7 separate regions of the Homo sapiens genome follow, and regions 2, 3, 4, 5, 6 and 7 are each reported to be linked to region 1. Evidence: microRNA targets listed by miRTarBase, many of them from high-throughput screens and not tested one by one. Region 1 holds a microRNA gene; each other region holds the end of a gene's coding sequence. Distances are between the middles of the regions.
Evidence for each region. The annotated mature microRNA hsa-miR-371a-5p reads ACUCAAACUGUGGGGGCACU and lies in region 1 at 2,045-2,064, opposite strand. An mRNA with a match to its seed (bases 2 to 7 or 8) in the 3' UTR can be bound and repressed. Matches are read on the target gene's strand: a 7mer-m8 pairs with bases 2 to 8, a 7mer-A1 pairs with bases 2 to 7 and ends in A, and an 8mer does both.

Region 1 (3,115 bases):
GGGTGAGGGGGGGCTTATATGGGAAGATCTTTTGATCTAGGGAGCTCAGGCCTGCAGGGAGCTGTGATGGTGCCACCACACTTCAGCCTGGGTGGTTTTTATTTTTTGAGACAGTTATCGCTGTCACCCAGGCTGGAGTGCAGTGGCACAACCTCGGCTGGCTGCAAGCTCCACCTCCCGGGTTCATGCCCTTTCTGCCTCAGCCTGTGACTACAGGCACCCACCGCCATGCCCGGCTAATGTTTTTGTATTTTTTAGTAGAGATGTGGTTTCACCGTGTGAGCCAGGATGGTCTTGATCTGACCTCATGATCAGCCTGCGTCGGCCTCGGCAGTGCTGCCACTGTGCCCGGCCTTACTTTTTAAACTTGTTTGAAGTTTAAAGAGCAGAACTCTCAAAGAGCATAACTCTAAGTTCTAGCAGGGGTAGAAGGGAAGCACAAAATACTGACAAGTATTTTTAGGCAATGTACTTGGGTCATAGAAGAAGGTTCAGTAACGCCAGACATGAGGCTCATGCCTGTAATCCCAGCACTTGTGGGTGGCAGAGGAACCCAATAGACCAGAAACACATGATGTTGTTCACATTTTATTAAAAAAAAAAGTTAGGAAAAGTGAGACTGTGGCATTGTCCGTGTAGCAGGGTGGAAGCACTCCAGCCCATGCTCTGGCCAAACCCACTTCAAGCCTTACATGCATGCTGCCTACCAAATTCAGGAACAGGACCCCAAATTCCCTTTAAGGCCAACCAGATTCCCCCGACACCCCATCAAGCTTTTCCTGCCCTGTTCATCTGCAGGTGAACCCCGTATCCTGCCCACCCCAGAATATGCCAATTTTTATTATCTAAAATGGAGCATACAGACTGGTGCCCCGCAGAGAAGCCCGGGAACTCCAGGTCATAGCTGAAGCTGCAGTCAGACCCGCAGGCTCCCTTGAAGCAGGATGGTTCGTGATGCCCTACTCAAACAGGGACACCCCAAAATCGAAGCACTTCCCAGTACAGACAAAAAGGAAAGCGCCCCCATTTTGAGTATCCCAGTATGAGCTCCTCGCGAGGATCTGCCATCACTGTGACTTTCTTGCCTACAAGAGGTTGGCCTCCAATCATCCAAGCACATGTTAAATGTCAGCAATAAACTTGCTTGCTATGGGGGAAGAGGAAAGTTACATATCAATTATAACACCAACAGCAAAAAGCATTCCTTTCTTTGTGCATACAGCCCCTTGGTCACAGCTGCTGTTTTTTTTTTTTTTTTTCTTTGAGAATGAGTCTTGCTCTGTCGCCCAGGCTGGAGTGCGGTGGCGCGATCTCGGCTCACTGCAAACTCCGCCTCCCGGGTTCACGCCATTCTCCTGCCTCAGCCTCCCAAGTAGCTGGGACTACAGGCGCCCGCCACCACGCCCGGCTCATTTTTTGTATTTTTAGTAGAGACGGGGTTTCACCGTGTTAGCCAGGATGGTCTCGATCTCCTGACCTCGTGATCCGCCTGCCTCGGCCTCCCAACGTGCTGGGATTACAGGTGTGAGCCGCCGCGCCCGGCGCAGGCGCACAGCCGCCCTCTGAACCTTCTCTTCCTTTCACCATCTAACCCAGATTCCCTTAGTTGTGTCAGGTGAGAGCCCAGGAGGCCCCCTTCCCTTCCCCAGGTTTTCCGGAGCCATTACAGCCAGACGCTGTAAGGGACCTGTACCCAAGACAGTTTCCGGCTGGGAATCGAAACCACAGGCTCTTTAGTTCCTGCAGAAGACCGAGCTCCACGGCATCCGTTGATATGGGCGTCACCGGTGACGCTCAAATGTCGCAGCACTTTCCACTTGGACATCAGAATAGTGCTCCACATTTGAGGCCCACAGGGTGAGCAGCTCCATCTGCAAGAGCCCCGGCCAAGAAATTTATATCACGAGGAAACGGCCATAGGCAGGGTCTAGGGCCATCCTGCTACCCGCCCCCTCACCCAATCAAAATGGTATCTTCTCCGCAGGTTGAGTCTTCTCAAGCGGTAACACTCAAAAGATGGCGGCACTTTCACCAGAGAGCAGAAAGTGCCCCCACAGTTTGAGTGCCACAGGCTGAGGGGATGCGGCAAGGCGGCGATCGCAAGTGGAAGCACTTACCCATCAGAAGAGGCTTTTAAGCAAGGAGGTGGAGAGTAGCCCTTGATGAGCTGTTGAAGGTCTACAAAGCACGAATTTAACGACCCTTTCTTAAAAAGTAAAAAACAAGGCTTTCCACGTATAGATATTCAAAGCACTCCCCCGCCCATAGCCTCCAGATGCAAGCCATGAGGACTGAGTACAATGCAAGTAGGAAGGAACACGTGTGAGGGACAGTGGGGCCTTCGTCCTTAAGACTGAAAAAAAATCACAGAAATAGAACAAAAGTACAGCCCGGCTGGGCGGAGTGGCTCAAGCCTGTAGTCCCAGCTACTCGGAAGGCTACGGTGGTAGGATTGCTCTTGAGCCCAGGAGTTCGAGACCAGCTTGGATAACATAGAAAACCCCATCTCTCCTAAAAAAAAAAAAAAAAAAGCAGAAAAACGCACATGGGAATGGTGGTGCGCGCCTGTGGTCCCAGCTACTGGAGGCTAAAAGGGTGAGTCCCAGGAGGTCGAGGCTGCAAGGCGCCATCATCCTACCTGTGCACTTCATCCTGGGCGACAGTGAGATCCTGACCCTAAAAAATAAAGTAAAATGAAAGAAAATAAAATAACATAGCAATACTCACAGAGGCCAATGATACGTCCACACCTCAGGTCTGCCAGAAAGAACAAGGTTCACTGCAGCTGCGTTCTTATATAGGGTGAGAGCCCACTCAACTTTGATAGGATTAAAGCCCACCCCTTCCCACCCTCTCATTCCCCCTGGTCTCCGCCCCAAGCCACCCTGCTCCCTTTGATCCTAGCTTGCCTTAGTCAGACACACCTTCATAAACTTTTTCAAACACTGATTCAAATAGAAATTAGGTGATCCCTATTACTAGTAACGCCAACATGTATTCGTTATAAATACATTGGAAAACACAGAGAAATAACCAGAAGAAAATCATTCCACCAGTCATCCACTCAACAAATATTTAAATATAGTATTTTGGCAGAGCGCAGTGGCTCACACCT
Region 2 (3,115 bases), not on the chromosome of region 1:
TGGGCTCACTCTTCACTCATACGCTGATGTTGTATCTCAGGTGCAGATTCCAGGGAGGTGGTAAATTGTTCCATTCACTATCTCAGTGACATTGCTGCCACCTTGTAACAAATCCGTATTCATTAATCCTGTTTGCTTTAGTAACAGAATATACCAAGGCCCTCTGAGATTAGTAAGAAATCAAATTTCAAAATCAAAACCACATTCCAAATTTCTTAAAAGATACTTTTTTTGTTCAATTCCTTTGTAAAAACATTGGTCACCATTTAACATACATGGCAACAAAATGCACCCAATTTACATGCATCAACAAGTTAATAAATCATAATACATGGACAACACAAATTTAAACAAACAGGACTAAAGTAGCTCATGTTGCATTTAACTATGGTTCTTGTGCTCCTAATAGAGAAGTAGCTAATATGAGAAACAAACAGTTCCAGTTTCAACCTAAATTAAAGTTATTTGTGGCAAGTAACATGAAACAATGATCATATGAAGTCATTATCTTAAAAAGAACCATTCTTCAGAAATCACTTTGTGGCAAAGCACCATACTAGGGTAGACTATGATCTTAAACATATACCTTCAGTTAAAGACAAATGGTCTCCATTTTTTGAAAATTACCTGAATGATTCAAATTTTTATTATGCCCATAAATTAAAATTATCTTTCAATGTGAAGGTTATATATTTTGACACCTTAAATAATTCTGGAGATGTTCAGTTAAACCAGTAATTCCCTGGGACCAGATTACTTTCAAGAGCAAGAAGAAAAAACAATAATCAAAAGCCCTTTCTAAAGTCACAGGCAAGGTTTCTGATACGGGATTTAATTAATAAGAAGTTAAGCACCACAGTAAAATACATTTTTAGAAAACAGAGTGGACTGCCATCAATACACAAGTTAGGGACAAAAGAAAGCACTTACACTTTACCCCACCCTTCCCCCCCCAAAAATTTAAGCACTCTAATCCTATCAATCAGAAATTTTACAAAGGATTTTTTGTGTGGTTATCTGTGTGTGGTTATTATATGGAAGATACAAACCGAAATTCTATTTAAGATCTCAAGTTCTAGAATCATGATTTGATTCAGTAAGAATGTCACATTATTTGTGCATGTTATATATTTATTTTTAGATTATATGCTATATTTTTATGCTTTCTCTCCTCAAAGTCTATGATTAAAGGATGGCACTTATGCATTCTGAAGCGCATGAGAGAATTTATGACAAACTGCCTTGTGAAAAAATATCTACTCTGAAGAGTTCAAAGTAATTATGTATAAATAAAACCTTAAAATAAACTGCTGTAAAACCTCTGCATCTATTTAGCAACACAAATAACTTCAAAAGCCAAAATACTATTTTAATTTTAAGTTTCTCTCCTCCATGATGTGTTTAATTACGCTGTTACAAGTAAGACTAATTTTTTAGCATGTGTAACAGACCACATGCTAAAAAAGTTTAAGGGTTCAGAAAACTAAAATTTATAATTCTTACATGGTTATACTTAAGCCAGAAGTACAAGACTAGAAATAAGTAACTTCAACCTAAAATATGCTTTAAATACCACAAAAGAAGAAAAAAGAAAAACAAAGGGAAAAAGGATTTCTCCTCATGTAATTTTTGAGTAGACTATGTAGCAAAAAAGCAAAATATTAAATATCTAGTTTTCACTTCAACAGAAATTATTCATAAATAAAATTCACTAAATAAGATATAATGAGATTAGGAGTATGAATATGGGGTATTCAGACTTATTCCATTCAGATGAGAAGATGACATCTTTGGAGGGAAAAAAAAAAACCTTACCAAATAATATAAATTGTATCTCATTAATCTTTCAAACATCACTTCAACTTCATCATTTATACCATAAACCTTCTTGACAGTTCCTATTTTCCACCTTTTTTTAAAAAAAGCTTTAGTCTCTTAATTTCCAAGCATCATGTTAAATCCCTTAGTTCAATCTAATTCCACAATCCCCATTTCAAAGACTCTAAAATAATCATTTGCTTCCCCTCAAAAGTCAGAATCCACCATGTAATTATTCAAAACTGGGAAACTAAAAGGTTAAAAAAAATCAACTAAAAATTGTACGCTTGTTAGTATACACGGTTTCATGTAGCAGGGAGACCACATAATTGCTCTTTGTGATTAACCCTCTGGCCCTTAAAATAGTAAAGTCAGAAAATTAAAATAAGTAATATATACTTAAAATACTTAAAACCTGTATCTATATCCATTTTCAATAGATGTGACAGTTAAGAAATGACTGAAATTATATTATTATAAATGTTTACTGCATAACAGTACAAAATTGATGTTCCCAAAAAGAGGGTAAAAAAATCTTTAACTGACATTAAACATCTTAAGTAATTTGGAAAAATCCCAAGGTTGAAATGTAACTATCAGGGAACAACGAAAAATGCTTTCATGCATGTACACATGTTAAGTAACAAATAAGCAAACCCCAAGTCAATACAGTACATCAATGACACTTAAATAACATTATGAATATAAAAAGAAAGGATAAAATGTTGACTGCTATTGATGAAAAAGCATTTCAACAATATACACAAAATGATACTAAACAGCTTTTTAAAAAAGATGTCCTAAGAAGATCAAGCCACAATAAGTTAGTGTTTTCCATAATACATGCTAAATTATTTGATCCCATATCTATACTGTTACTGTCTTAATTCCTAAATGTTGTGACAGCATATTTAATTACTGAGGTACATTAGTTTACATCTTTTTATAGGTATTCTAAGAGGATTAACTTTTCGTTTCCAGTTTTTCATCTTCTTCACCTCCTCCAAAGAAAATTAAAGGAAACATTCCTAGAATGCAGCCAATAGTCACCCCAACAGCTTTGCCCTAAGGAAACAAAAGAGAACATTTTTAAAGTTACTTTATCTCTGATAACAAGAAGGCAGAGAAAAAATCTCACCAGCTCTTCTCAATATATTTGGATTTGCTACCCTTCATATATATTCCTCTTCAATATTTATCCCTGTGTATACCTAATTATATGTAGATATAATCATTATGTAAACATAGCTTTGTTTTCTTCCTCAATCCGTACCCCTGCATAGCCACACATTTTCTC
Region 3 (3,000 bases), not on the chromosome of region 1:
CACCGTGCCTGGTCTAGGATCGTGGTTTCGAAAAAAGCAGACTTGGCCAGGCATGGTGGCTCACACCTGTAATCCCAGCATTTTGGGAGGCCAAGGTGGGTGGATCATGAGGTCAGGAGATTGAGACCATCCTGGCTAACACGGTGAAACCCCATCTCTACTAAAAATACAAAAAATTAGCCGGGTGTGGTGGCGGGCACCTGTAGGCCCAGCTACTCCGGAGGCTGAGGCAGGAGAATGGTGTAAGTAAACCTGGGAGGCAGAGCTTGCAGTGAGCCAAGATCGCGCCACTGCACTCCAGCCTGGGCGAGAGAGCAAGACTCTGTCTCAAAAAAAAAAAAAAAAGAAAAAATCAGACTGGTACACAAGTCTCCAGTTCCCTATGTCCCCATCACTCCTCATCGCATAGCACTATGTCATTGTAGGCCCCTATGGGCATTTGAATGTGTACCCCTTTCTGGCCCATATCCTATAATGAGCTAACATTTGCATAGCATGGCTTAGGTTTCTAAATTTGAAACAAGGCACTGGAAAAAACATGGGCTTTGAAATCAGACGAATCTGAGTTCAAATCTTGATTCGGCTGTTATACTAGCTGTATTACCTTGGGCAAGTTACTCTCCTCTCTGATTCTCAGTTTCTTTTCTTTTCTTTTTTTATTTTTTTTTTAGACACAGTCTCGCTCTGTGGCCCAGGCTGGAGTGCAGTCGTGCGATCTCAGCTCACTGCAGCCTCTGCCTCCCAGGTTCAAGCGATTCTCCTGCCTCAGCCTCCCCAGTAGCTGGGATTACAGGGACGTGCCACCATGCCTGGCTAATTTTTGTATTTTTAGTAGAGATGGGGTTTTACCATGTTGGCCAGGCTGGTCAAGAACTCCTGATCTCAGGTTATCTGCCTGCCTCAGCCTCCCAAAGTGCTGGGATTACAGGCGTGAGCCACTGCACCTGGCCTGACCCTCAGTTTCTACATCTGTAAAATGGGGACGAAAACACACATTTGCAAGGCCACTGTATGGTTTAAAAATAATATGTGCAGGCTAGGGGCAGTGGCTCATGCCTGTAATCATGGCACTTTGGGAGACTGAGGCAGGAAGATTGCTTGAGGCTAGGAGGTCGAGACTAGCCCTAGTGACAGAGCGAGACCCTGTCGCTACTTAAAAAAAAAAAATAATAATAATATGTGGAAAACACCCAAGTGGAAGTATGAATGCACTAAATGAAAGTAATTAGTAGCACATCAGTGGTAGTTGCACAAGTCCAGTGAGGACCACGGCATTATGATTATCCTCATTTTATGATAAATTGAGGCTCTGAGAGGTCCAGAACCTTCCCCAAGGTTACACAGTGGGGGAGTGGGGACTCAAACCCATGTCCTCTAGCTCTAGATCTGCACTGTCCACTAGAATAATCTGTGAGGATACAAGTGTTCCATATCTGTGTTGCCCGTCACAGCAGCCACTAGCCACATGTGGCTACTGGGTCCTGAAAATGTGGGTGGCAAAATATACACCCAATTTTGAATACTTAATACAAAAAAGAGTACAAAATATCTAATGATGTTAATTATATGTTGAAATAACTTTTAGAAATTTGTGTTAAAATATATAGTGAAGATTAATCTCACCTTTTTTTTTTCTTTGGTGAGACAGGGTCTCACTGTCGCCCAGGCTGGAGTGCAGTGGCGTGATCTTTGCTCACTGTAGCCTCGACCTCATAGGCTCAAGTGATCCTCCCACCTCAGCTGGAACCACAGGTGATGGAACCCGGCTAATTTTTTGTATTTTTTGTAGAAACTGGGTTTCACCATGTTGCCCAGGCTGGTCTCAAGCTCCTGAGCTCAAGTGATCCACCTGCCTCAGCCTCCCAAAGTTCTGAGATTACAGGAGTGAGCCACAGTGCCCAGGCTTCTTTTTTGTAATGCAGCTACTAGAAACATTTTAATTACATATATGGCTCACGTGTTTCTATTGGACAGTGGGAATCTAGAACTTCTCCAGTAGAACAGCATCTGAGATAAGGAACTTAGTGTTTTTTAAAAAGTATTTACAACCCACTGCCCACCAGCAAGGAGCCCTCTGTGACATAAGAACAGTTGAAGAATGAACATACCCACCGGAAAGAGACCTCAGGGCCCTCCTCTGAGCTCCTTGACCCCTGAGGCCTAGAGAGTAGTGTGGCTGGCCCCAGTCTCACAGAAGTCAGCTGCACAGCTGGAACCAAGCCGTAGATTCCTCAGCCTGATTCGGCCACTTGTGCCACCATACAAAGGTACCCACTGGGATTTTAAAATCAGTGTTTTTACTTCAGCAAACGGAACCCTGGGATAACACCAGTTGGAGTCTGAGGCCTATGATCTTGAGAAGGCAGTATCCTTTGGGAGGGTCTGCATGGGGCCAAATCTTGAGCCACAGCCAGACACCTCAGGGCTGCATTAATTGGAGGGACGGCTCTTGTTATAGACGAGGAAGTCTGAGATGTCGTGCCATACATTGCTGTCCTCATAGAGGTAGGTCATGGAGGACTGCAGCGAGGGCTGCAGGGTGGATCGGTGATACTCAAAGAGCCACAGCACCAGCCCCCACACCACCGCAGTGAGCAGCGGGAACGGGTCCCACCTGGGTTCAGGGATGTAGCCCTTCTCTACAGCCAGGCGGCTCAGGGCAAACAGGACGCGTGACAACAGGTACATGTTGATCTGCAAAGAGGGAATGATGGGAATTACTGGTGATCAATAGTGATGTCCCTCTTTTGTTTTTGATATTAATAATTTGTTTCATTTCTCTTTTTTTCTTAGAGAGCCTGGCTAGGGGTTTATTTATTTTAATTATCTCTTCAAAGAATCAACTTTTGGTTTAGGTCCTTTTCTCTATTGATTTCCTGTTTGCAATTTCATTGATTTCTGTACTAATTTTTTTTTTTTTTTTCTGAGACAGAATCTGGCTCTGTCGGCTAGGCTAGAGAGAGTGGGCTTACTGGATCTCGGCTCACTGCAACCTCCACC
Region 4 (3,115 bases), not on the chromosome of region 1:
AGCAAACATTTACAAGATATGTGGGCCACACTGAAAAAAAGAGTGCACTCCGCGGACAGAACGAGTCCCACGCATCCAATTCCAGGACACAGAAACACACACAACATACAGAGATCTGAATAGGCACAGTAAACCAAATAAATATGACTTATTCCAAATCACAACCACAGATGCTCTCTGGAACATCACAAGAGAAGGCAGAGAAGAGATTTTGTGCTGTACTTTGAGACTAGTCTGTTAAAAAAATAAATAGGAATCAGAAGGTCTAGGACCTGGGTCTCACTAAAATAACATCCTCTGTAAAGAACAGCTGAACGGCAAAATAGTTTTCTCCGGAGGGGCCTTTTGCACATTTCTTCCTGTCTTGGGAAGCTAGGGGACGTAGGGGAGGGAGACGTAAGTCTAATGGCAGCCAGAACGTTGCCGTCTCCCGTTTCTGCTTTGGTGGGGGTAGGGTAGGAGCTGGGAGCCGGGAAGCTACTGTAGCCTCGAGTTTCCCACAGAGCTCTCTTCAGGAAGTAAGGGCTGGCTAGACCTCTATCCACCCTGCACCAGAGGCTGGGCAGAGGTTGGAGGTTCAGGTGCAGTTGAAGTTGCTATACCAAGGGAAAGAAGCCTTTACAAGCACACAAGGCAAGGATGCATCCCCGTCCTGGTGTGCTCAGGGTGGGAGGACTAATACACCCCTCCGCAAATGCTTCAATACGCTGCTTTACCTATCCTCTCCCTCTCCAAAATCCCAGCTGCTATTCTCTGACCACCCTAGAGGCGGCAGGTCTCCCGGGAAGAGCCTTTCTCTCTGCTGCTTGCTGGGTTTCCCCCATTCCGGGTGCATTCTCAGAACAGAAGAGCGGGAAAGACTGCTCTATTGAAAGGACAGGTAGGCAGAGTAAACTAGTTCACTTCGGGTCTGTTTGTGGATTGGTGATACTCTGTGTGAAGACCTGGAGAGGATTGTTCCCAGACCTAGCACGGCCCTGGACCCAGTTCATCAGCAGATGTTTCCCAAGGAAAACAGACATCACCCTCTACCCTGGCTGACCTCTGCCTTCCTTTTCCTCCTTTGTCCTGAGTGAGTAACTGCACTTAGAGAAAAGCTGCACCCCACCACCATTAAGTGGCTTTCACCAAACACACACCTTTCCAAGACCCAATACTTGGAAGGAGAGGCGGTTTTCCCTTGCAAGATGGCAGCAGGATACAGACTCTGCCCTGCCTGGGGGACTCTGAGCAGGACCCCAAAGAGCTCTGACCGTCTCATGCCTACACTTTTTGGGTCCACCGCCTATGTGGGGAGATACTTTTCTTGAAAAGAAGAAAACAAGTATCTTCTGGCATCAGACAGAGGAGAAAAAAGGAGAAAATACAACAGATGGAATCCCAGACTCCAAGAGAGATGTGTGAGGGACTCTTGTGTGCCTTTTCTTTTTTTTTTTGAGATGGAGTCTTGAACTGTCGCCCGGGCTGGAGTGCAGTGGCGTGATCTCAACTCACTGCAACCTCCACCTCCCAGGTTCAAGTGATTCTCCTGCCTCAGCCTCCCAAGTAGCTGGGATTACAGGCACCCGCCACCACACCCAGCTAATTTTTGTATTTTTAGTAGAGATGGGGTTTCACCATGTTGGCCAGGCTGGTCTCAAAACTCCTGACCTTGTGATCCGCCCACCTTAGCCTCCCAAAGTGCTGGGATTACAGGTGTGAGCCACCATGCCCGGCCTCCTGTATGCCTTTTCTAAGTGAGGGGAGGCGTCAGGACCAGGGTGGCTTAGCGTCAAAAGAATGGGGGAGGAAGTACATTTGTAGTCCCTTCTCCAAGCCAGTGGTTCTCAAATGGGGGCAATTTTGCCCTGCAGGGAACATTTCGCAATGTCTAGAGACATTTTTGGGGGCTGTCACAACCAGGGGTATGGTTGGGGGATGGCACTACTGGCATCTGGTGAGGCCCGGGATGCTGCTCAGCATCCTACAATGCAGGGGACAGTCCCCTCAAAAAGAATCACCTGGCCCCAAATGTCAGTAATGTCGAGGTGGAGGGTCAATCTCTAAGTCAATCTTCAGCCATGTCCAGAACATCGCCAAAGGCCCCTTGCAGAGGAGCATAGAGGTAGCCCCACACACCTCTTCTACACCAATTTCCAAAAAGAAGTTTCCTCCCCAGGTCTCATCTTACAAGACAGTTTGGAGGGATAGGGAAAGAAGAAGAGGAGACCATTCCGGGCACCAGCAAACAAAGATGGCTCCTCCTCCACCAACAACCTCCACCTCCTGCAAGGGAGGAACGCCAGACTTGGGCAATCTTTGGTCAAACAGGAAAATGTAAGGCTGAATTGAAGGGGTACTCCCTCCACCCCATCTGCCCAGAAGTAAAAGTCAGGGTAGTTTCTTTGCGCACTGAACTCCACGCTTGTGAACAGACACCAGGACCCCGCTCCCGGGGTGCCCATCCAGCCAGGAGGAAAAGTAAGCAGAGGAGCGGGGCAGGGGCAGCTTGGCTGAGGCTGCCGGGGTGAGGTGCCCCTCACTTGTTCTCAATCAGAGTCTGCACCTTGTACACGAGGTCCCGCGCCAGCTTCAGGACTTGCTTGGTGTTGTGTCGCTCAGCCATTTCTGAAAGAGCAGAAAGAAAAATCTCATGAGCCTCCTTCTGTGTCCAGTCTTAGGGTACAATTCCAGCCCCTGGAGGCTTCTCTGGGGGCATCTCCATCACAGATTGACTCAGGAAGCAGAGGCCCTGGAGAAGGCCTCTACCTCTGGACCTTAGTTTCCTCATCTGTAAAATGGGGATTGGAACAGCAGCCACCTCACCAAGTTACTGTGCGGATTGAATGGGATAATGCTGGTTCACAGGATGTGCCATAAAAAGGTGAGGTCGGCCGGGCATGGTGGCTCATGGCTGTAATCCCAGCACCTTGGGAGGCCGAGGCAGGTGGATCACCTGAGGTCGGGAGTTTGAGACCAGCCTGACTAACATGGAGAAACCCTGTCTCTACTAAAAATACAAAACTAGTCGGGTGTGGTGGCGCATGCCTGTAATCCCAGCTACTCAGGAGGCTGAGGCAGAAGAATCGCTTGAACCCAGGAGGCGGAGCTTGTGGTGAGCCGAGATTGCACCACT
Region 5 (3,000 bases), 17 Mb from region 1:
GTAAGGAATGTAGAAAACCTTTTAGACTGCTCTCACAACTTACCCAACATCAGAGTATTCACACTGGTGAGAAACCTTATGAATGTAAGGAATGTGGTAAGGCTTTTAGACTTTATTCATTTCTTACTCAACACCAGAGAATTCATACTGGTGAGAAGCCCTACAAGTGTAAGGAGTGTAAGAAGGCCTTTAGACAGCATTCACACCTTACTCAGCATCAGAAGATTCATAATGGAATTTAATAGAAGAAAGCCTTCAAATGTATATGATGTTACAGAACATCAGAAAATTCATTTTTGAGAAAATGTGTTTCATGCTCAATTCCAAGCATAATAAATTTTATATTAGAGAAAGAATATGTTGATTTAAAAGCCTTCCAACACCATTTAAACATGGTTTATCTTCAGCAAATTCCTATGAGAGAATAATGTAATGAATGTAGGAAAATCTTTAGCCTTATCTGTCATTATCTCCCTTTCTCCACTTGATTACCAGTTTGATTTATTGGACAAGATACTAAGCTTCTGTGCCTCATTTTGCTGACTTGTAAAATGGTAATAATAGTACTTATATGTATTAGTTATTTATTGCTGCGTAATAAATTACCACAGACTTAGTAGCATAAAATAACATATAATTATATCTTATAATTTGGATCAGGAGTATAGGCATGACTTAGTTGGGTCCTCTGCTTCAGGGTCTCTTGCAAGGCTACAGATTTCAGCCAGGGCTGAGGTCTCATCTGAAGGCTCAACTGGGGAAGGATCCACATCCAGACTAACATAGTTGTTACCCAATGTATTTCCGTGAGGCCTGTTGCATTGAGATTCTCAGTTTCTAGCTGGCTGTTGGCTGAACGCTGACTGCAGCTCCTGGCCACAATAGCCTCATCAACATGGCTGCTTGCTTCATCAAGGCATGCAAGCCAAAAGGGAGGACAGTCTGCTAGCAAGATGGAAGTTACCATCTTGTGTAATCTAATCATGGAAGTAACATTCCCTCACCTTCTACTGGTAGAAGTAAGTTACTAGGATAGTCCACACTCAAGAGAACGGGATGATACAAGAGTGTGAATAAGTCCTGGAGACAGGACCACTGGGGGGCCTGTTTAGAGTCAGCCTGCCACACTGTGGAATAGGATTGTTGCAAGGAGTAAGTAGTTAATACTTGGAGGAATCACAGTCATATAGCATGTATTCTGTAAATATTATCTGTAATTGTTATTATTGTCATTAGTATTAGTGAATTCACGTAAAAGGAAGATCTGTAGACATAATAAATGTAGAAATGCCTCCTGTCACCTCTCAGAAATTATTAAACATAATTTATTCTAGGTAAAATTTAGATTGTAGTGAATGTAGGAAGTTCTTCAGCACTTGAGCTGCATTAGAAATTTCATGCCAAAAATGAATTTCATGAATGTGAGGTCACTAGTAATACAGCTGTTGAAGAATTAGAGGGAAATAGGAAATGATTTTCCCATAATTCCAGAAAGCAAAAGGCTTACAATCCCTGTTGTCTGACCACAGTTTAAAATTAATTAGAAACTATCAAAAATGTGGCTTAAAAGAAATTAACCACCTAGGAATTTAATATTGTTGTGTATATTTATGTGTGTGTATAAAACTCCTGTGGGAAAGAAACAAAACATCATTCTATAAGTCAGTATACTTTTGGATGCTCAAAATGCCATATCTTCAACCAGTAGGAGTTGTTTCAAGTTGAGTTTTTGATGTGATCCCACCAATAATTTGATAGTTTACTTGATTGTGGCTGCATAATTTGGTAACCTATGAAAGATGCTAGAGCACCAATGTATAATTTTTTTGAGACAGGGTGTCACTTTGTCCCCCAGGCTGGAGTGCAGTGGTACAAGCACAGTTCACTGTACCCTGTTCCTCCTGGGCTCAAGTGATTCTTCCACCTAAATTTTTTTTTTTTTTTTAGAGAAAGGGTCTCACTATGTTGCCCAGGCTGGTCTTGAACTTCTGGGCTCAAGTGATCCTCCCTCCTTGGCCTCCAAAGGTGCTGGGGTTACAGGTATGAGCCACCACACCCAGCCCAACTCATTATTCTTGAAATCAATAAATCAGAGGAAAAATTGTCATTTAGTTTCCTTTTCCCATGTGAACCAAATTTCAGGGTCACCAGAAGTTCATCAAATTCAAATGAATTTGGCCTGGCACAGGGGTCACACCTGTAATCCCAGCACTTTGGGAGGACAAGGTGGGTGGATCACTTGAGGCCAGGAGTTTGAGACCAACCTGGTTAACATGGTGAAACCCTGTCTGTACTAAAAATACAAAATTTAGCCAGGCATGGTGGCACACACCTGTAGTCCCAGGCTGAGGTGGGAGGATCACTTGAACCCAAGAGGCAGAGTTTGCAGTGAGCTGAGATCGTGCCACTGCACTCCAGCCTGGGTGACAGAGTGAGACCCTGTCTCAAAAAAAAAATTTGTTTTTTGAATGGGTTTTTCTTTTTTGAAGAAGTCTAATAAATCTAGAAGGAATTAGAGGATTAGAAAAATCACCATTTTCTAGACCTTAATGGAATAATGGGTCCAGAAAACATGATCTTCAATGGGTACTACAACTAATAGGTGAAATATTTTATAGCGAGATTTTTATGGTGGATCTATCAAACTGGCCACCTCTGAACCCTTTGATCTGTTTTAACCTTAATAAAAATGGGTCTATCAGACAACACACTTCCTGACGTAATGCAATAGGAAGTCCACACCACCATCTACAAAGCCTTATTGCTGGAATAATGAACTGAAAGCAGACAGGGACTAGATGAACAGTATATGGTCATCCCTTGGTATCCATGGGGAATTGGTTCCAGGATCCTCCACTGATGGTAAAATCTGAGGATGCTCAAGTCCCTTGTATAAAATGGCATAGTATGTATTTGCATATTACCTACTCACATCTTCCTGTATACTTTAAATTATCTTTAGATCACTTATACCTATCACAATGTAAATACTATGTAAAT
Region 6 (3,115 bases), not on the chromosome of region 1:
CAGAAGGGTTTGGCTGCATCCCCAAATCTGACTAAGCTTTTTTTTTTTTTTTTTTTTTGGGATGGAGTTTCGCTCGTCACCCAGGCTGGAGTGCAATGGTGCGATCTCAGCTCACTGCAACCTCTGCCTCCCAGGTTCAAGCAATTCTCCTGCCTCAGCCTCCCAAGTAGCTGGGATTACAGGTGTGAGCCACCGTGCCCAGCTCTGACTAAGCTTTTATTTAGCCAGCCACTTGTGGCTTAAACCTCCTCATCCCCTTGAGTGGGCTCCATCAAAAAGTAGTCTCAGGCTGGGCACGGGGCTCACTCCTGTAATCCCAGCACTTTGGGAGGCCGAGGCGGGTGGGTCACTTGAGGTCAGGAGTCCGAGACCAGCCTGGCCAACATGGCAAAACCCTGTTTCTACTAAAACAAATACAAAAAAATTAGCCAGGCATGGTAGTGCGTGCCTGTAATCCCACCACTCTGGAGGCTGAGACACGAGAATTGCTTGAACCTGGGAGGCAGAGGCTGCAGTGAGCCAAAATCACGCCACTGCACTCTAGCCTTGGTGATGGAGTGAGACTCTGCCTCAAAAAAAAAAAAAAGGTGGGGGCACCTGGGCACGGTGGCTCACGCCTGTAATCCCAGGACTTTGGGAGGCCAAGGCAAGTGAATCACCTGAGCTCAGGAGTTCGACACCAGACTGGCCAACATGGTGAAACCCCATCTCTACTAAAAATACAAAAATTAGCTAGATGTGGTGACGGGCGCCTGTAATCCCCACTACTAGGGAGGCTGAGGCAGGAGAATCACTTGAACTGGGAATGCAGAGATTCTAGTAAGCTGAGATCGCGCCACTGCACTCCAGCCTGGGCAACAAGAGCGAAACTCCATCTCAAAAAAAAAAAAAAAGTCATAGGGAAGCGTATTAGTAATACAGTGAATGAAGCTGGACTATTCATTGCACTTAAAGTGAAAAGTGCTACAGATTATGAAATAATTACTAAAACATACAGCCACACTGTTTCCATAACTGCAGAAGATGGGACTTTGTAGCATATAAAAACAATAAAATAGAGGGAACACTTCATTAGGCAAACAAAAGAATTAGGACCTATAAAAATTTGCACTTTTTTTCCTGGATTTTTTTTTTTTTTTGTCAACCTACTCACCAAAAAATTTGCACTTTGACTCATATTGGCCTATTTTAACATTTCAAAATCATTTAAAGAAAAATATGACTTTTTCTGTCATAATTCCCAGTCTTAGTCTCTATCTTTGATCAAAAAGAGGATAGGGCAATACATTAAATTGACAAGGCATATAACAGCCACTGAATCTTTCTGTTCATGAGAAGAAATCCCAGATACACCATAAATGAGATGCAAACCAGCAGTAAGAATGATGGCAAGGTTTCTGTATTTCCATCAGAAATTGTGGAAAAGGGCCTAAAACCAGGAAAGACAAGGCCATTAAAAAAATGTATTTGAGGCCGGGTGCGGTGGCTGACACCTGTAATCCCAGCACTTTGGGAGGCCAAGGCGGGCGGATCACGAAGTCAAGAAATCGAGACTATCCTTGCCAACATGGCGAAACCCTGTCTCTACTAGAAATACAAAAAATTAGCTGGGCGTGGTGGTGCATGCCTGTAGTCCCAGCTACTCAGGAGGCTGAGGCAGGAGAATCGCTTGAACCAGGGAGGTGGAGGTTGCAGTGACCCGAGATCATGCCACTGCACTCCAGCTGGTGACAAAGCAAGACTCCATCTTAATATATATATATAATTTGAGACGGTGTCTCGCTCTGTCACCCAGGCTGGAGTGCAGTGATCATGATCATAGCTCATTGCAGCCTTAAATTCCTGGACTCAAGTGATCCTCCTGCCTCAACCTCCCAAGTATCTAGGGCTACAGGTGTGCACCACCATGCCCTGCTAATTCTTTTATTTTTTAGAGACAAGGTCTTGCTAGGATGGTCTCAAACTCCTGGCTTCAAGCAGTCGCCTCTCCTCGGCCTCCCAAAGTGTTGGGATTACAGGCATAAGCCACTACGCCTGGCCAGAAAAAGCCAAAAAAAAAAAAAAAATTAGGGCTGGGTGAGGTGGCTGATGCCTGTAAACCCAGCACTCTGGGAGGTCAAGGCGGATGGATTGCTTGATCCAGGAGTTGGAGACCAACCTGGGCAATGTGGCAAAACCTCATCTCTACAAAAAATATTTTAAAAAAATAAATAAATAAGTAAAATAGAAGTTTGACATGAAAGTATATAATATAAAAAAATCCAACTCCGGAAAACCAGAATACAACTCACCAAATGTTTTGCTTCTCCACCAACGTAACAATTTATAAAGCAAGAGATGAGAAAAAGAGATTATTGGGAAATGTACTGAATAATGAGGAGTCTGGGGAATAGAACAAAAGTTGTAAGTCGTAACCTGACCCATCTTACTTCACTGGTAATCAAGTACAGTCGAAAGGATGAAATAAAGAAGTGAGTAGTTTAAAAACTCTGTTGGACCAGCACCTTGAATCAAATGGATGTTTTAGGGTTCTGTTTCCCACTGAACCAAGAATTGTATCCCTCCATCTCTCCTTGAGGAGAGGCCCTATGTTAGACCTTGGCTACTCATCATTAAGATAAAATCTTAATAGATAAAACTGGAATTCCTTGAATCCATGAAAAGACAGTGTTCATTAAGGGTTTGTGCAGTGGATGCTCCTTATGTCCCATGGTAGAATAAGATCTCCTTAGCTCCGCCAAGTTAAAGGCTCTTGCAAGGGCACTTAGAGATGTTGCCTCTTCATGAAGATTTCATGTAGGTAATCCCAAAATTTCGTCTGCTCTGTTTCATTGTTGTGGATCATGGCAGTGAGAGCTTCCCCCTGGTCCAGACCTTGCCAATAATCTTGCAGCCACATCTCTTTCCAACTGAAATATCAAAATGGGGGTTGGATTATGGAACTGCAGCATAGTTATGAGTCCTGCCTTTTTCCGAGTGGGGCCAAAGAAATCTTAAGCAGATACAGTGGTCTCTAACTTGGACAAGACTGCTGTGAAAGGAAGACAAAGTGAAGTAAATCCAATATAAGCCCAAGCGACAGGCAGTAAGTCACAAACACAAAGACATCACACAG
Region 7 (3,115 bases), not on the chromosome of region 1:
CTGAAATCTACAACTGTATGGAGTTCATAAATCTCATTCTTAAGAGTCACCTTCAGGCTGGGTGCGGTGGCTCATGCCTGTAATCCCAACACTTTGGGAGGCCAAGGCGGGCGGATCGCTTGAGGTCAGGAGTTCAAGACCAGCCTGGCCAACATGGCAAAACCCCGTCTCTACTAAAAATACAAAAATTACCCGGGCGTGGTGGTGGGAGCCTGTAATCCCAGCTACTCAGGAGGCTGAGGCAGGAGAATCACTTGAACCAAGGAGGCGGAGGTTGCAGTGAGCTGAGATCACACCATTGCACTCCAGCCTGGGCTACAGAGCAAGACTCCATCTCAAAAAGAAAAAAAAAAAAAAAACAGCAACCTTACCATGTTACAGGGTTTCTTTGACTACATACAGCCATCTGAGGGATGGAGAATGCAACTTTTACTTGCTCGATGGGGTTTCCAACATCTGTTGGAAGAAACATGGCTTCTGAAAGGTGCCTTCTTAAAAATAAAAAAGAAAAAAAAAAACTACAGGTCCAAGTTTTGTTTTTAATAAAAATATTCCTCCCACTCTTAAGGTGTGTGCTTTCTTTTTTGACCTATTTTTCCTTAAATTTGTCTGTAGTTTCCCTGTATCTCTATATTTTTCCTAGTGCAGTAAACAATGCAATCAAAGAAATAAAAACCAGGGTCCACTCTTGCCCCAAACACTGAAGAGGGTCAAAGAGAAGAAATCGCAGCACGGAAAATGGCCCAGCTCTAAATATACAAACAACATTAAAAACAAAACAAAACAAAATAACCCCCCCCCCCAAAGCATTATTATTGACATTCCTGGTACATTTCCTATAATATAATGTTGCAGACAATGCTTCTTTCCCAGGGAGTCCAGCTCACTCAAGAGACATCTAGTTGGTGCCTCAGGAAAGCCTGGGGGTGTTGAGTCCTCTCTGCCAAGCCTAAAGCTTTTTATGATCTCAGTATCTCACAGAAACATCTGTGGTATAAATGAATCTAAAAGGGGACGAAGGCAGGCAGGCACCTGTCACTGTTCTCCAAATCAGCCAAAAAGCTGAAGAGCGTGGGTTCTAGGAGACAGATGCCATTAAGAGTTGAGGGATGGAGGGCAGAACAAGAGGAAGCACCAAATGAGTGGCTGCTTTGGGTTCCAAAGCCAAAAAAATGGCCCCACCAAAAAAGGCAGCTGGTTTCATTGAGGAACTCCCTGCTCTTGGAGCCATGCAATGAAAATGATGGCCTTGGAGCCCCATCCCTGTGACAGCCACAGTCTAAGAACCAGAGCCATTTACATCACATTGCACAGTTTCAAATGAATGGACTGGTCCTAGCTTAGGAGGGTGAGTGCTTTGACAAAGTGTGGAACAAGGTAAGCTATTACCTTGAACCCCAAAGCACAGCTGCAGCATCCTTGGCTTTCCATTTCTTTCTTTTTTTTTGAGACGGAGTTTCACTCCTCGCCCAGGCTAGAGTGCAATGGCATGATCTCAGCTCACTGCAACCTCCGCCTCCCAGGTTCAAGCAATTCTCCTGCCTCAGCCTCCCAAGTAGCTGGGATTACAGGCGCGTGCCACCATGCCCAGCTAATTTTTTTTTTTTGTATTTTCAGTAGAGACGGGGTTTCACCATGTTGGCCAGGCTGGCCTCAAACTCCTGACCTCAGGTGATTCACCCACCTCGGCCTCCCAAAGTGCTGGGATTACAGGCATGAGCCACCGCACCCGGCCTTGGCTTTCCATTTCTGCAAAACCACAGGCCACTGCTGCCACTTGCTCTGTGGAGATGTACCTTCCACTTATTACCACCTTCTTCTCAAAATGGCACTCACGGTACTAACTTTTGGAGATCTCCAGAGGCGTCAGTTGCACCTCTGGAAGTAAGATGATTTCCCTGCCCCATACTTGCCAAAGCACTTTTTTTTTTTTTTTTTTTTGAGATGGAGTCTCGCTCTTGTTGCCCAGGCTGGAGTGCAGTGGTGCGATCTTGGCTCACTGCAACCTCTGCCTTCCCAGGTTCAAGCGATTCTCCTGCCTTGGCCTCCTGAATAGCTGGGATTACAGGCTCCCGCCACCACACCCGGCTAATTTTTTTTTCGTATTTTTAGTAGATACGGGGTTTCACCATGTTGGCCAGGCTGGTCTCAAACTCCTGACCTCGTGATCCACCCGCCTCGGCCTCCCAAAGTGCTGGGATTGCAGGCGTGAGCCACCACGCCCGGCTAGCACTTCCCTTTTTAAGCTAGTGCTGGCATGCCACCTTCCCCTCAAAGCAGAGTCAACTTCCTTTTGTTTGAGAGTTTTGTACTGGCCTCTGTAGGCCCTTTTCAGGATACAAAATAAAGTGCCCTTCAGCATCCACATGCGAGTGGGTTGCCTTCCAGTGTCAGATCTGTGTTCCAGAGTTTGGTCAATGCATCTTTACAAGAATAAAACCACATGCCTACACACACAGACGAGCCTGGAAATGGCTTTCTGGACAGGGTTACTTGTTATCTTGACACTTCCCCTAAAAGAAATTACTTTCTTGGTGTAAGATGATTAGGACATTGAATGACCTACTCTCAACTTCTGGAAGGGCAGCTTGTTTTGTCCATTTTTCAATGAGGGAGTGGGAAGAACCCAACATTTTCAGTTACAACAATAAGATTTTGTTTTTTTTTTTTTAAAAAAGGGTCCTATGTGGAAATGAGTGGGACAATGATAAAAATAAACAAATAATTAAAATTCCAAATCAAAACATAACTCCTGGCCCTGAGATCCCCAGTTAATCCTCTAAGACCACAATCTCCACATTGTGAACTTGATGCTGGTGTTCTTCCATCTCAGCCACAACTTTCTCCTCAGTCCTCAGCTCTGTCTCCAAGATGACTGCTTTGCCCTCAGTATCTTCAGCTTCTGGGTCCGGGGCTGGATCAATCTCAATGATGGTCTGCCCATCCTCTGAGGTGCTTTCAACAGCCTGAATTGCCGAGGTTAGGCCGGACTCCATGGCCACCAATTCCACAGGGCTAACCATGGTGGTCATGTTGCCCAGTGTACTCCCATCCTGCATGGCAGTAGAGCTCAGCAGCGCCAAGCTAGATGAAGGGTGGATGGTCACTGTGTCTG

Region 2: the mRNA of TMEM65 is a reported target of hsa-miR-371a-5p. The part of its 3' UTR that is shown has no 7-base or 8-base seed match.
Region 3: miRTarBase lists PXMP4 as a target of hsa-miR-371a-5p. Seed matches in the 3' UTR shown: 7mer-m8 at 1,359-1,365 and 7mer-A1 at 326-332.
Region 4: miRTarBase lists SGSM1 as a target of hsa-miR-371a-5p. Seed matches in the 3' UTR shown: 7mer-A1 at 1,825-1,831 and 7mer-A1 at 1,635-1,641.
Region 5: the mRNA of ZFP14 is a reported target of hsa-miR-371a-5p. Seed matches in the 3' UTR shown: 7mer-A1 at 296-302, 7mer-A1 at 1,826-1,832 and 8mer at 2,252-2,259.
Region 6: miRTarBase lists POFUT4 as a target of hsa-miR-371a-5p. The part of its 3' UTR that is shown has no 7-base or 8-base seed match.
Region 7: the mRNA of GMEB1 is a reported target of hsa-miR-371a-5p. Seed matches in the 3' UTR shown: 8mer at 2,147-2,154, 7mer-A1 at 1,819-1,825, 7mer-m8 at 1,653-1,659 and 7mer-A1 at 334-340.

Annotation. Positions count from the first base shown.
Region 1 is chr19:53,786,629-53,789,743 of GRCh38, reverse strand. It overlaps MIR371A (microRNA 371a), which reads right to left and starts at 2,069; the gene lies at 2,003-2,069. MIR371B (microRNA 371b) reads left to right here and starts at 2,002; the gene lies at 2,002-2,067. MIR372 (microRNA 372) reads right to left here and starts at 1,854; the gene lies at 1,788-1,854. MIR373 (microRNA 373) reads right to left here and starts at 1,039; the gene lies at 971-1,039. It also overlaps LOC124904767.
Region 2 is chr8:124,311,179-124,314,293 of GRCh38, forward strand. TMEM65 (transmembrane protein 65) reads right to left here. Exons shown (of 7, transcript NM_194291.3): 7 at 1-2,883. The coding sequence ends at 2,782. Among named protein-coding and RNA genes, the nearest start is that of TMEM65, 60 kb to the right of the region's middle.
Region 3 is chr20:33,705,276-33,708,275 of GRCh38, forward strand. It overlaps PXMP4 (peroxisomal membrane protein 4), which reads right to left. Exons shown (of 4, transcript NM_007238.5): 4 at 1-2,694. The coding sequence ends at 2,431. Among named protein-coding and RNA genes, the nearest start is that of PXMP4, 14 kb to the right of the region's middle.
Region 4 is chr22:24,923,678-24,926,792 of GRCh38, reverse strand. It overlaps SGSM1 (small G protein signaling modulator 1), which reads right to left. Exons shown (of 25, transcript NM_001098497.3): 25 at 1-2,607. The coding sequence ends at 2,519. Among named protein-coding and RNA genes, the nearest start is that of LHFPL7, 21 kb to the left of the region's middle.
Region 5 is chr19:36,337,466-36,340,465 of GRCh38, reverse strand. ZFP14 (ZFP14 zinc finger protein) reads left to right here. Exons shown (of 5, transcript NM_020917.3): 5 at 1-3,000. The coding sequence ends at 242. Among named protein-coding and RNA genes, the nearest start is that of LINC00665, 7.2 kb to the right of the region's middle.
Region 6 is chr10:73,775,335-73,778,449 of GRCh38, reverse strand. POFUT4 (protein O-fucosyltransferase 4) reads right to left here. Exons shown (of 3, transcript NM_173540.3): 3 at 2,231-2,909. The coding sequence ends at 2,765. Among named protein-coding and RNA genes, the nearest start is that of POFUT4, 4.6 kb to the right of the region's middle.
Region 7 is chr1:28,714,430-28,717,544 of GRCh38, reverse strand. GMEB1 (glucocorticoid modulatory element binding protein 1) reads right to left here. Exons shown (of 10, transcript NM_001319674.2): 10 at 1-3,115. The coding sequence ends at 2,772. Among named protein-coding and RNA genes, the nearest start is that of YTHDF2, 21 kb to the left of the region's middle.